4 separate regions of the Homo sapiens genome follow, and all the other regions are reported to be linked to region 3. Evidence: microRNA targets listed by miRTarBase, many of them from high-throughput screens and not tested one by one. Region 3 holds a microRNA gene; each other region holds the end of a gene's coding sequence.
What was found. The annotated mature microRNA hsa-miR-199a-5p reads CCCAGUGUUCAGACUACCUGUUC and lies in region 3 at 1,295-1,317, shown strand. An mRNA with a match to its seed (bases 2 to 7 or 8) in the 3' UTR can be bound and repressed. Matches are read on the target gene's strand: a 7mer-m8 pairs with bases 2 to 8, a 7mer-A1 pairs with bases 2 to 7 and ends in A, and an 8mer does both.

Region 1: miRTarBase lists PSMD9 as a target of hsa-miR-199a-5p. The part of its 3' UTR that is shown has no 7-base or 8-base seed match.
Region 2: miRTarBase lists TBC1D21 as a target of hsa-miR-199a-5p. Seed matches in the 3' UTR shown: 7mer-A1 at 265-271.
Region 4: miRTarBase lists ZNF844 as a target of hsa-miR-199a-5p. Seed matches in the 3' UTR shown: 8mer at 2,480-2,487, 8mer at 2,396-2,403, 8mer at 2,312-2,319, 8mer at 2,144-2,151, 7mer-m8 at 2,061-2,067 and 7mer-m8 at 1,339-1,345.

What each region holds. Positions count from the first base shown.
Region 1 is chr12:121,915,737-121,918,816 of GRCh38, forward strand. PSMD9 (proteasome 26S subunit, non-ATPase 9) reads left to right here. Exons shown (of 6, transcript NM_002813.7): 5 at 120-208; 6 at 548-2,561. The coding sequence ends at 575. It overlaps CFAP251 (cilia and flagella associated protein 251), which reads left to right and starts at 2,856. Exons shown (of 22, transcript NM_144668.6): 1 at 2,856-2,959. RefSeq lists a silencer at 2,985-3,080.
Region 2 is chr15:73,888,895-73,891,974 of GRCh38, forward strand. TBC1D21 (TBC1 domain family member 21) reads left to right here. Exons shown (of 11, transcript NM_153356.3): 11 at 175-320. The coding sequence ends at 207. Among named protein-coding and RNA genes, the nearest start is that of TBC1D21, 17 kb to the left of the region's middle.
Region 3 is chr1:172,142,829-172,145,908 of GRCh38, reverse strand. MIR199A2 (microRNA 199a-2) reads left to right here and starts at 1,265; the gene lies at 1,265-1,374. The region is part of intron 14 of DNM3 (dynamin 3); the gene reads right to left. DNM3OS (DNM3 opposite strand/antisense RNA) reads left to right here and starts at 1,074. Exons shown (of 4, transcript NR_103486.1): 1 at 1,074-1,255; 2 at 1,472-1,544.
Region 4 is chr19:12,076,601-12,079,680 of GRCh38, reverse strand. ZNF844 (zinc finger protein 844) reads right to left here. Exons shown (of 4, transcript NM_001136501.3): 4 at 1-3,080. The coding sequence ends at 2,560. Among named protein-coding and RNA genes, the nearest start is that of ZNF844, 13 kb to the right of the region's middle.

The DNA of each region.
Region 1 (3,080 bases), not on the chromosome of region 3:
TATGCTGCAAATGTAAATCTTTACCAATTTGATAGGCAAAAAATGGGATCTCAGCATTTTAGCCTGCATCTCTGAGTACTAACGAGGCTGAACACGAAATGAGCTTATTTTCTTTTCAGAAGCCCCTGAATGTGACAGTGATCCGCAGGGGGGAAAAACACCAGCTTAGACTTGTTCCAACACGCTGGGCAGGAAAAGGACTGCTGGGGTAAAGTATCTGTTTCTGTTCATTCTCACTGGGGCATCATTTGAGTGTTTGTTAAACATGAAGCTGGAGGGGAAGGCTGGGGAGACATTGGGGAATAATGGGAATCCCCAGTTTGCATGGAAACTGCAGATAAATCCTCGTGGTAGGAACGAGACTACAGCTCTAGAAGCAGAGGGAGCCCCAGAGTCTCTCCTGGGAGTCTCTCCAGTTCATTCATGCACTAGGCATTTGCTTTAAAAGAATGAAAGAACATTGGTGAAAAGGTCAGAAGGGCTCAGCCTCTGACCTTCCTGAAGGGAGCCTCCAAACTTACGCCATTCCTTTTCTTCTTTCTTCCAGCTGCAACATTATTCCTCTGCAAAGATGATTGTCCCTGGGGAACAGTAACAGGAAAGCATCTTCCCTTGCCCTGGACTTGGGTCTAGGGATTTCCAACTTGTCTTCTCTCCCTGAAGCATAAGGATCTGGAAGAGGCTTGTAACCTGAACTTCTGTGTGGTGGCAGTACTGTGGCCCACCAGTGTAATCTCCCTGGATTAAGGCATTCTTAAAAACTTAGGCTTGGCCTCTTTCACAAATTAGGCCACGGCCCTAAATAGGAATTCCCTGGATTGTGGGCAAGTGGGCGGAAGTTATTCTGGCAGGTACTGGTGTGATTATTATTATTATTTTTAATAAAGAGTTTTACAGTGCTGATATGACCCTGTTGTCACCCCAGCTGAATTTCTTATGACCCTCCCAAACCAAAGCTCAGATGGGGTCAGAAGAGCTTCATAGAAAGTTGGGCAAAACAGGCTAGCAATTGCAAAGTCAGGCTTTGACCAACATATTTCTTTGCACTGAGGCCTTGCTGCTGTGGATACGGAAATGGTTAAGTACTGTGCTTCCTCAGCAGCTGGGCTGTCAGGGCCATAGTAGCTCCCTTTGGAGAACAGGGAAAGCCTGGAGGCTTCCCAGGTGGCCCAGCGTGGTGTCCTGTCAGCTTCCTCTTTAGGAACCCACCAGAGGGCAGCAAGCTCCTTTCACTTCGCTAGTAAGAACCCCTCCGTTTTTGTGTGTTTTTGTTTTTGTTTTCTGGAGACAAGGTCTTGCTTTGTCACCCAGGCTGGAGTGCAGTGTCGTGATCAAGGTTCACTGAAGCCTTGACGCTGTGGGCACTGCCTCAGCCGCCCAAGTATCTGGGACCACAGGCGTGCACCACCATGCATAGCTAATTTATTTTTTGTAGAGACAGGGTCTCCCTGTGTTGACCAGGTTGGTCTCGAACTCCTGGGCTCAAGCAGTCCTCCTGCCTTGGCCTCCTAAAGTGCTGGGATCACAGGCGTGAGCCACTGCGCCCAGCCCACTGCTAGTTTGACTTTTTATAATTGAACCTCCTGGCTATGCCCTGAGATCAGCGCTATTTTGTAAACCGCTGAGGTATGGATAGGAACGAGTAGATCAGACCTCTTGAAAATGCTTATTCTTCCTCCCTTTTATTTTTTGTCTCTTTTAAGATGGTAAAATGGTTCTCAGGGATTCCTGCCAATACTTTGAATTATTTTTTCCTCTCCATGGTATCAGTGTTCATTTCCCCAGTTCTTGCACACCGCTTTCTGTTTTGGCAGTTCTGCCAGGCAAGCCCTGTGTTCCTTGGGACTGGTTTTGCTGTGGTTGGATACAGATACCAGCTTGCCTTGATGGGATTGGTATTGCTGTGTGCTTCCAGCCACAGGTTCTCACACTCAATTCCAAAGCCTTCCTATTGGGCGAATTCCCTCAAACTCTATTTGACCTGACAGCCATACGTATTCCCCTCTGGTAGCCACAGACATGCTGTGTTTACCAATGTTTGCTGTTTAAATTGCATGTTCTAATTCCACGTATTTTCCAGTCTCTTTTATAAAGTCTCAGACTATAATAAACACAGCTTGCCCAGTTTATCCTTTCTTTTTTATTTTAAGATGTATGCATATTAATCAATTTACCATCACTGGGGCATGGCAGTGTGGGCGGGGAGAATTATTCACATTCTCCTAAAATGACAGCAGCAGAGAGCCTTCTGCCTCAGTGGCTCTGGCTGGTTTCCTGCAGGGGTCCCAGTGGAAACCCGTGTGGCCACCTGTTGCCGTCTTCCATGAGATGTTAGTGGAGAGCCACTTTGACGTGGAATGATCCTAATAGATATAGCCAGACCGGTTTTGCGGAAACGCTTTGTGCTGAGAACCGCAAGCTGGTGCACCCTGTGTCATATCTGCCCCCAGCCAGCTGGAATTGTCTGCAACACGCGGTGCCCGGTGAGGAGGCAGGCAGGACGGTTGTGTGCTGCATCCATGAGACCTGGAAATTCAGTTTGCTTTTGGAAAAGAGCATTGTATCCGAGTTCATACTTCTCCACCCCATCTTGCCAAGGTTGCGGAAAGTAAAAATTGGCAGTATTGGCCGCTGCAGCTTCTTAGGGGACGGGACCATGTGAAAAGGTGGGATCGTGCGAGCGGAGGAAGGACAGAAAAGCGAGGAAAGTCTATGCCGCCAGCGACCGGCAGGAGGCACGTCGGGCACGCTCGTCACCGTTTCCTGGCACGTGACCACCGCCCTGCCCTGTCGCTTTAGGGCCTGTCGCTTCCGGCGGTGGCGGTTGCCATGGGGACGGAGCTTGGGTGGCAACCAGAACTAGGGAGCTGGTGGAGAAGGTGGCGGCCGCTGGAAGGAGGCCCGGGAGGTGGCTGAGGGGTCCAGGCGGCGGGACGACTCTGGCCTTTTGAAGACCGGGGTGGGTGCTCTCTGTAAGTCCGGGGCGGAGGCCACGCGGCCCTGGCGAGGGGGCCCCCGACCTGGCGGGGTCTGGTGCCCCTTGGGGGGCGCTCACCCGACCTGGCCCTTGTGGGGCCTGG
Region 2 (3,080 bases), not on the chromosome of region 3:
TCCTCCCTGAGCAGGCTGTACTACTTGAGAGCAGGGCCCTCATCCCCCATTCCCTGTGTCCATCCCAGTGGGTCTGGGCACCCAGAGGCTCAGGAGAATGTCGCTGCTTAGAAGAACCGAAGAATGAAAGGGACAGACCAATGTCTGTGCACCTCCCACCTGCCTCCTCCCTAGGTTCCTCAGACATTAAAGGATTTCTTCCTCTGAGGACACCAAAGCCCGCAGTGGACTGATGCCTTCGATGGGCAGGATGAAGGCCAGGGGCACTGGAGTGAGGGAGTAGATAAAACAGCTGCAATATAAACAGTCCTCTGGAATAATGGTTTGTGGTGGATGCTATGTCTTTGACCTTAGGGGCTGGGACGCACATGAGGGCTGAGACAGGGTCGTACGATAGGAAGAGAGGCTGGCTGGCTGAGAGACACATTCTGAGACTAGGGAGGGTGCTTGCTGGAAGAGACTGGGTCAGTGGCTCCTCCTTGATGGAGGGTTTTCCAAGGCTGCGGTGGATCCATATCTGGATACAAATGGTTAGAGTAGAACCAGCTCTGAAAGGCTTCCAGACCCCTGTGGAGGACAAAACTGAGCACATTTAATAAGGATTAGTTCATCTGGACTTAGGTCCTGAGAGGAAGGCTGGTCCTGGGGCTCTGCCCCCACCCCCACTGCTCCCCTGAGTCCTGTCACATCAATCACACAATTAAGTCATTTTTTCCAGAGATTTCCTGCTAGTCTGTGGAAGGGGCTGGCCTGGAAGAACTATCTGATGAGCAGGCAATTCCCTTCCTGGTTTCAAAGCCTCCCTCATAATTGTGCCTTCATTTATCAGCCTGCAAATGTGTCCTCAAGCTACATTTTATTTTCCAGTCTTGATCAATCTTTCTTGAGAATGCACTCTTTGCCCTTGGCCAGGCAGTCAGTTGCTCTGTGAGGAAAAGGTGCATCACACCTGCTCCCCCAGGCTGTGCCACAGCCCTGAGCCCCTGTCCAGCCTGCCCCATGCTCTAGCTGGCCCCTCTGAGGGAAGACATGTAGATGGGCCAGAAAGGCTGAAACTGCAGAAGGGTTGGGGCTGGCTGGGTGCCCCCAGAGCTGCTCAGCAACACACATACATACACACATACACACACACACGAATGCACACACATACACACTGCCCTGCCCAGTGACTACAAGTTTTCAGGAGGGCTGACATTACACATGGGCAGGAGGGATCCCTTGCTTTTGCTGTGAACTGGTCCTTAGAGGTAAGGCATGGCCATCCCTCTCACTCTTCAGCCAACTGTCCCTCCCTCTGCTCCCATCCTGGCACTCTTAGTGACCATCACTCCAAAGCCATTATGTCCCCAATGAGTGCTTGGTCTCCTTCCCCTCAGGCGACAGTCTCCCATCCAGGACCAGCTCTGAGTCTCTTAGCTGCTGTATCTTTGCTGGAAGGTTGAGGGGGAATGCTGAAGAATGAGGGCCTGTCCCCCCAGCAACACCTTCTCTGCATGGCTAAAGAGCTCATGTTTGCTGGGCAGGGAGGCACATGGGTCAATTCATATACTACACTTCTCCTTTGCTTTTATGTTCCTAAGGCAGTTTATTTAAATAAGTGTTCCCGCATGAAAGACAGTTCTCCAAGGATGAAACTGTGTTTGCATTTTGCCAGAGAGGCAGAGAACAAGAGTAAAAGACATCTTGCTGAGCTAGTTTTGGCCTTGGGAAGAGAACAATCAATAGAAACATCAGATGAACATTTTCTAATGCTTCTTTTAGACTGGTGACTTCAGATGGCCGATTATTTTTGGTTGGGACCTACACACAATGCCAAACATCTATTTCAAAACAAACATTTAAGAACTCATCTTCTAGACCACTTGCTGTCAAATCTGTTGTTAAAAGCACTGGAGCCCCTTTATTACACAGTCCTTCCCAGGAGCCCAGCGGATGAAGTTTGGGTGCAGATCCCAGAGCCCTCTCCCCCGACCACCCCTCTCAAGCCCCCCTCCTTGAACCTCACATCATTTCCTGTGTTATCTGCAAGGAGCCTCTTGTCTACTAGGGTGCATATTTGAAAACCTGTTAGGTCTTAAGGACGAGGTGGATTCAATCTTGACACCAAATTGATCCAGATTCAGATAAATCCCAGGTGATGGAGTGATGAAAGTAACAATCTTGGAAGAGTGGAGCTTCTCTCAGCTCATCTGCAGTACTCCCAGCCCAGCAGACTGTAGATTAGGATCTTCCCACCATGCTGCTATGCAGGTCCTTAAAAATAACACTGGGCTGTATAATTCATTCATTTATTCCCCCTTCTCTGGCTCACTTAGTTTATCATTTATACAGCCCAGTGTTGTTTTTCTCTAGTAGGGTCCATTCTGGAGATAGAACTACAGGAAGCATTGAAATCCTAGAGCCTAAGTTTGTGTTATGACAGTCTAGTTTATTTCAGCATGCATTTATTCAGTACTGTCTTAGACCATTTGGACTGCTCTAATGATGGCAGTGGCAGCCCATCTGGAGCAGCCACTGCCATGATGCCAGCTGCAGTGGGGGAGGCGCAGTGAGGGCTGCATGCTCCATGGAGCCAGTGGGAGCCAGAAACAGGCAGGAGCCCCGCCCCCTTCCAAGTTGGAGGGGTGGGAGCCCCACCCTCCCTGGCACAGCTGCAGCCACCCTGCCATGGCTGTGGACCCAGGCATCTCTGCACTCTTGGGGGCCCTTGAAACCCCCATGCCCTCACAGGCTCAGAACTGCCTGCTCCCACTGCCTGGCCTCTCCCCACTCCTGGTGCCCACTCTGATTTCGGAGCAAAGCTGTGGCTGAGACCAGGTGCTGTCACAACCCGGCCAGGTGTGCTCACACCTGGGGCAGCACTTACACACCAGCCCCATGCCTTCTTGGCCCCCCTCTGGACTTTGGGCACCGACAAGCATGGAAGAGAGGCTGAGGGGGTGGGTGCTAAGGATGGCTCGGCATGGGCCTTCAGGCACCCCTCATCATGAACAGCCTGGGCACCGTGGATGGCAGGTTAATGACAGCAGGAGGCAGGCAGATCCTGGGTGGAAAGGGGCAGATCCTGGTGAACCCCACCT
Region 3 (3,080 bases):
GTAGATGCCAGTGGGCTGATATCTTATAACCTTTGGTCAAGCGGTACTTGGCAAATTTCAACAGATTTAGTTAACCAGAGATAAAACTAAGCCACAGAATACCATGAAAACAAAACAAAAGTATCAAAACAGAATCAGGAATTACAAGTGAAAAACAATGCTATACCTAACAGCATGGATCTACCAGAGGCGATTTGTTAGAAGACCTGAGTCGTTGTTTCGTAGTGGATGCTTCAAACAAAAACTGTAACGTTTCTTTAGGTCAAACTATAGCACAGCATTCAGAGACCCAGCCAAAATAGCTGAGGGAAACTAGGAAGGCCACATGTGGAACTAATTACTCATGTAGAGGCCATGACAAAGAACATTTCTCCAGACTTTTCATGGGGGCTTCACTTTCAGGAAGTTGCTATAATTACTGTTCAAGTCTAGAGCAGCCTGCAAGCTGCTGACAGATTCAACAGACAGGAGAAGGAGGGAGAGAGAGAAGGAGAGAAAGAGAGAGAGAGCGGGAGGGAAGGAGGGAGGGAGGGAGAGAGAGGGAGGGAGAGGGGAAGAGGGGGAGAGAGAGAGAGAGAGAGAGACAGACAGACAGACAGACAGACAGAAACTTATCTGCCCTTTTTGACGAGTGAAATACCAGAAAATAAAGTGCCACAGGAAAGCTCAAAAAGGTTTCCAAATGAGCTCTGCCTTCCAGTGTTCAACTTTCTGTTTACTATTTCATCTACCCTCTATCTTCAAATTACTTCTCTAGCCTGGGTCAGACAGTAAATTTGTACTTCTACACTAACTCACTTTCAGTTGGCCACAGCCGAACTGTACATCTTGACTCTTTTTTTTTTACAGCTTTTCCATACTGGGGCCCACTTCCTGCCCAGTTGAGGAAAAAAATCTGGCCTGAAGATGAAATGACTGCTTAACGTTACACTAAAACATCTGGTACCATTTTATGCACAGACCCATGTCTGAGAGCAGGCGATTCTAGCGGTCTCTCCAGCGGCACAGCGCATACCCAAACCTCCCCAGGGTGACATCATCCCATATATGGACTCTCCAGCCCAGCCCTCCCCCTTTTCCTGGTCCTAAATTCATTGCCAGTTCCCCAGTCTGCAGCAAATGTGCCACGTCAAGACTGGAAATCACAGCCCTTGAGTGTGTCTCAGTCAGCGCAGCAGAATTCAGGGGGGAAAGCTGAATGCAACCCCTGGTGCAGGAAGGGAGGCTTTTCCTGAGGACCGGGAGAGGATTTTAAGTACATAGAAGGAAGCTTCTGGAGATCCTGCTCCGTCGCCCCAGTGTTCAGACTACCTGTTCAGGACAATGCCGTTGTACAGTAGTCTGCACATTGGTTAGACTGGGCAAGGGAGAGCAACGCCATGGACCGCTGGGGACAAAATGGGCTGTTTCCAAGGAGAAGACATTTGTTTGCTCCTTTTTTGAATCTCATATCCAGTGTTTTTCTTCACAGGTTTTGCACACTAGGGACCAAGAAGCCCTCGGGGACACTGCTGAGAAAAGACTGCCGAAGGGAAGACCAGCGGGTAAGGCCTTCTTGACTGCTCACCTGGTCTGTGACCAAGGGAACCTAGGTGGGGAGCCCATGATTTGTGTTAACATGCAAGGGAAACAGAGGTACATGTGTGATGGGTAGAGATGTATTTAATTTTAAAAGAGCAAAAGTGTGTGGTATATAGCGATTTACTGTTTTTTTTTTTTTTATTTCTGAAGATTGATAATTCAAGTGTTTTCTTAAAGGTTTTCCCACTTCAAAATGAAATATGAAAAAACTCATTCCAGACACTTAAGAATAGTTTAATGAGGCTACTTTTGAATTGTTTAATAATAATTCAAAGATTTAAAAACTTATATGGATGAAGGCTGTATGTATAACTTTTAACATCCCAGGACTGAAGTCATTTTTCCCCAAAGTAAAGAATACTTGCTGGTTTTTAAATGCTATATGGATAGTGCTTTTCTGAAGATTTCCTTCTGTAATATAAACAACAGGAATAATAGTACCTAACAATAAAAGAAGAACCTGCCAAGTCTTGCCTACCAGACAATGCAGATGGGATTTGCCCAGAGAAGAGCACCGACCCACAACTTATTGAGTCAGCAACTGAGTAAATCAGGGAATAAAAACCTCTATCTTTAGATACCCCTGTAAATATCTGTTTTACATTTTTTTTAAATCAAAGAGTGGTTAATAATTGCTGCTCAGCTGAGCCCTCTTGCCTATAGCTTACAATGCTTCCACTTCTCTGAGCATTTAAAATAAGGCACTTTGTCTAGAAACCCACTGATAAAAAAGGAATTTGTAAACGAAGGCAGAAGTTTTCTTTGGTCAGTTTCCAGCTGTCCTGGAGGTGAAAGAGGGTGGGAGAGGGGGAGGAAGGTGGGAGGGAAGAAAACCCTCAAGCTGAATGAAATCCTAATAGAGAAAATAATAGAGCAAGTCTGGATTGCAATGTGATCTGTGCTGAACTTTAGAGGTCGGCCCCTTAAAGAAAGTTCTGGAAAAATGTTATTGCCTCATCCCTAATTTTCTTAACCCCCATTAATTTCTATTCCGAAACAATTCTATATAATGAAAACATCTCTTCTACAGGGTTTGTGAAAAATAAACATAATCTCTTTTGTCCTCCTTTAAAGTTACAGTGGTTCCTGAACAAATTCTTTTCTAAGTTATACATTTTGCAACAATTCAAAAATTGACTCAAGTTCTCTTTAGCAAAATATTTTATTATAAAAGATTCCCTAAGTTTTCTTTTGTCAAAACAACTTACTTTAAAAATTACCCTTCTGATCACCCCAAAATGTGTATAAAGAAAACATTAAGTATTCTCATATATTCATGATTATTAGTTAAAATATAAACAGCAAGGAGAAATTTAGCTACTTTCACTTAGATGATATAGTAAAGTTATCCTTTCATTTTCTATTGTGACTTGGAGAGTTCCATATTAATTATTTTTAGTAGAACAAATGAGATGTTAAAAATCTATATAGTTTCTTTTACATAAGAAAACTAAAAAAAGTAACTTAGAGGAGCTCATTTTTTCAAGAAATATATTTTT
Region 4 (3,080 bases), not on the chromosome of region 3:
GAACCACCGTGCCGGCCCCTTGCTTTTTTTTTCAGATGGAGTCTCACTCTGCTGGGGTACAGTGGCGTAATCTCGGGTCACTGCAACATCCAGCTCCTGGGTTCAAGTGATTCTCCTGCCTCAGCCTCCTGAGTAGCTGGGACTACAGGCACGCGCCACCATGCCTGGCTAATTTTTGTATTTTTGGTAGAGACAGGGTTTCACTATGTTGCCCAGGCTGGTATTGAACTCCTGACCTCAAGTGATCCACCTGCCTTAGCCTCTGGAAGTGCTGGAATTACAGGTAAGCTACCGTGCACAGCAATCAATTTCTTATAATAGGATTTCTCTCATATATTAATAGTATGAATTGCTTCATTTCAGGAATGAAGGCTTTTCACATTCCCTTCATTTACAGGGTTTCTCTTCAGCGAGTTCTTTCATGGCTACAAAAGGATCTGATACAATGGAATGCTTTTCCATATTGCTTGCATTCAGAGGGTCTCTCTTTATTGTGCATCCTTTTATGTCTTTGAAAATGAATGGGGAGAAGGCCGGGTGCAGTGGCTCATGCCTGTATGCACAGCACTTTGGGAGGCTGAGGCAGGTGGATCACCTGAGGTCAGGAGTTCGAGACGAACCTGGCCAACATAGTGAAGCCCCGTCTCTACTAAAAATACAAAAATTAGCTGGGCGTGGTGGCGGTCACCTGTAATCCCAGCTACTTGGGAGGCTGGGGCAGGAGAATCACTTGAACCCAGGAGGTGGAGGTGGCAGTGAACAGAGATGGAACCACTGTTCTCAGCCTCAGCGACAGAGCAAGACTCCGTCTCAAAAAAAAAGAAATGAACGGGGAGAGAGGCCTATCTGTCATGTGCAATACCATGTGGGTTTCAATGCCACTCAGATCAGAAAATGCTTTCCCACGCAGCTTACATTCATAGGGTTTTCCTCTAGTGTAAGTCCTTTTGTGAATTATACCCTCTTTGAAGACAGGTATGCCACTGTGGGATATGGCACAAAGTCACTCTGAAGAACATGAGATAACTTTTGGTATTATGAATGAACAAAAAATTAGGACCAAGATAAATGTTCTAAGTATATAAGCATGAAAATTAAAATTTACATGAGGAAAAAGATGCCTGGGATTTTGTCCACTTGGTAATATTGACTCACAATGTCCAAAAAATAATGTGGTAACATAAACTTGATCTAATGCATGATGGCACTGAGATATTTTATTATGGCTTCTCAATTAATTAAATAGAGAATAACAGCTGGGTGCAGTGGCTCATGCCTGTCATCCCAGCACTTTGGGAGGCTAAGGCAGGTGGATCACTTCAGGTCAGGAGTTCAAGACCAGTGTGGCCAATAGGGTGAGACCTCATCTCTACTAAAAATATAAAAATTAGCCAAGTGTGGTGGTGCACACCTGTAATCCTAGGAATCTTTTTCCTCAGGAGCCTGAGGCAGGAGAATTGCTTGAACCCGGAGGCGAGATCATGCCACTGCACTCCAGCCTGGGCAACAGAACAAGACTCATCTCAAACAACAACAAAAAATAGAGAATAACGGCCGGGCACGGTGGCTCATACCTGTAATCCCAGCACTTTGGGAGACTGAGGCGGGCAGATCACGAGGTCAGGAGATTGAGACCATCCTGGCTAACACGATGAAACTCCGTCTCTACTAAAAAATACAAAAAATCAGCCGGGTGTGGTGGCAGGCACCTGTAGTCCCAGCTACTCAGGAGACTGAGGCAGGAGAATGGCGTGAACCCAGGAGGTGGAGCTTGCAGTGAGCTGAGATCACGCCACTGCACTCCAGCCTGGGTGACAGAGCGAGACTCTGTCTCAAAAAGAAAAAAAAAATACAGAATAACATGTTAGTATGCAGCTGCTATAAACATTTAATTGTTTACATTCATTGTCTGTATTTGAAGGTTCTTAGCAAATCTGAAGGCTTTCCCATATTGCTTATATTCATAGGGTTGCTCTACAGTGTGAGTCCTTTCATGCACCAGAAGTTGTGAGACAGATCTGTAGGCTTTCCCACATTGCTTACATTCATAGGGTTTCTCGCCAGTGTGAATCTTTCTATGCATCTGAAGTTGAGTGGCAGATCTGAAGGCTTTACCACACTGCTTACATTCATAGGGTTTCTCTCCAGTGTGAGTCCTTTCATGATATCGAAGGCTACCGGAAGAAATGAAGGCTTTCCCACACTGCTTACATTCATAGTGTTTCTCTCTGGTGTGGGTCTTTTCATGATACTGAAATGCAGTAGAAGACATGAAGGCTTTACCACACTGCTTACACTCATACTGTTTCTCTCCAGTGTGAGTCCTTTCATGGTACTGAATGGAACTGAAAGAAATAAAGGCTTTTCCACATTGCTTACACTCATAGGGTTTCTCTCCAGTGTGAGTCCTTTCATGTCTACGAATGGCAGTGGAAGAAATGAAGGCTTTACCACACTGCTTACACTCATAGGGTTTCTCTCCAGTGTGAATCCTTTTATGACACTGAAAGGAACCAGAAGAAGTGAAGGCTTTGCCACATTCCTTGCATTCATACGGTTTCACTCCAGTGTGAGCCCTTTTATGTCTACGAAAGGAACCAGGCAAACTGAATGCTTTCCCACAATCCTTACATTAATATGGTTTCTCTCCAGTGTGCATCCTTTTGTGTATACGCAAAGAAGAAAAATAATTGAACGCTTTTCCGCATTCCTTACATTCATAGGGTTTCTCTCCAGGGTGTGTTCTTGCATGTACTCGAAGGATCTTGGCAGATATGAATGCTTTGTCACACTCTTTACATTCATAGGCATTCTGTCCTCTGTGCATTGTTGCATGTATTTGAAAGGAAGAGAAATTGTTGAATGCTTTTCCATATTCCTTATAGGGTTTCTCTCCAGGGTGTGTCTTTTCATGAATTTGAAGGTTTCTGACAGATCCAAAGGTTTTTTCACATTGTTTAGATTCATACAGTTGCTTTCCAGTGTGAGTCCTTTCATGCATTTGAAGGTGTGAGGCAGATGTGAAGGCTTTCCCACATTGCTTACACTCATAGGGTTTCTCTCCAGTGTGAGTCCTTTCA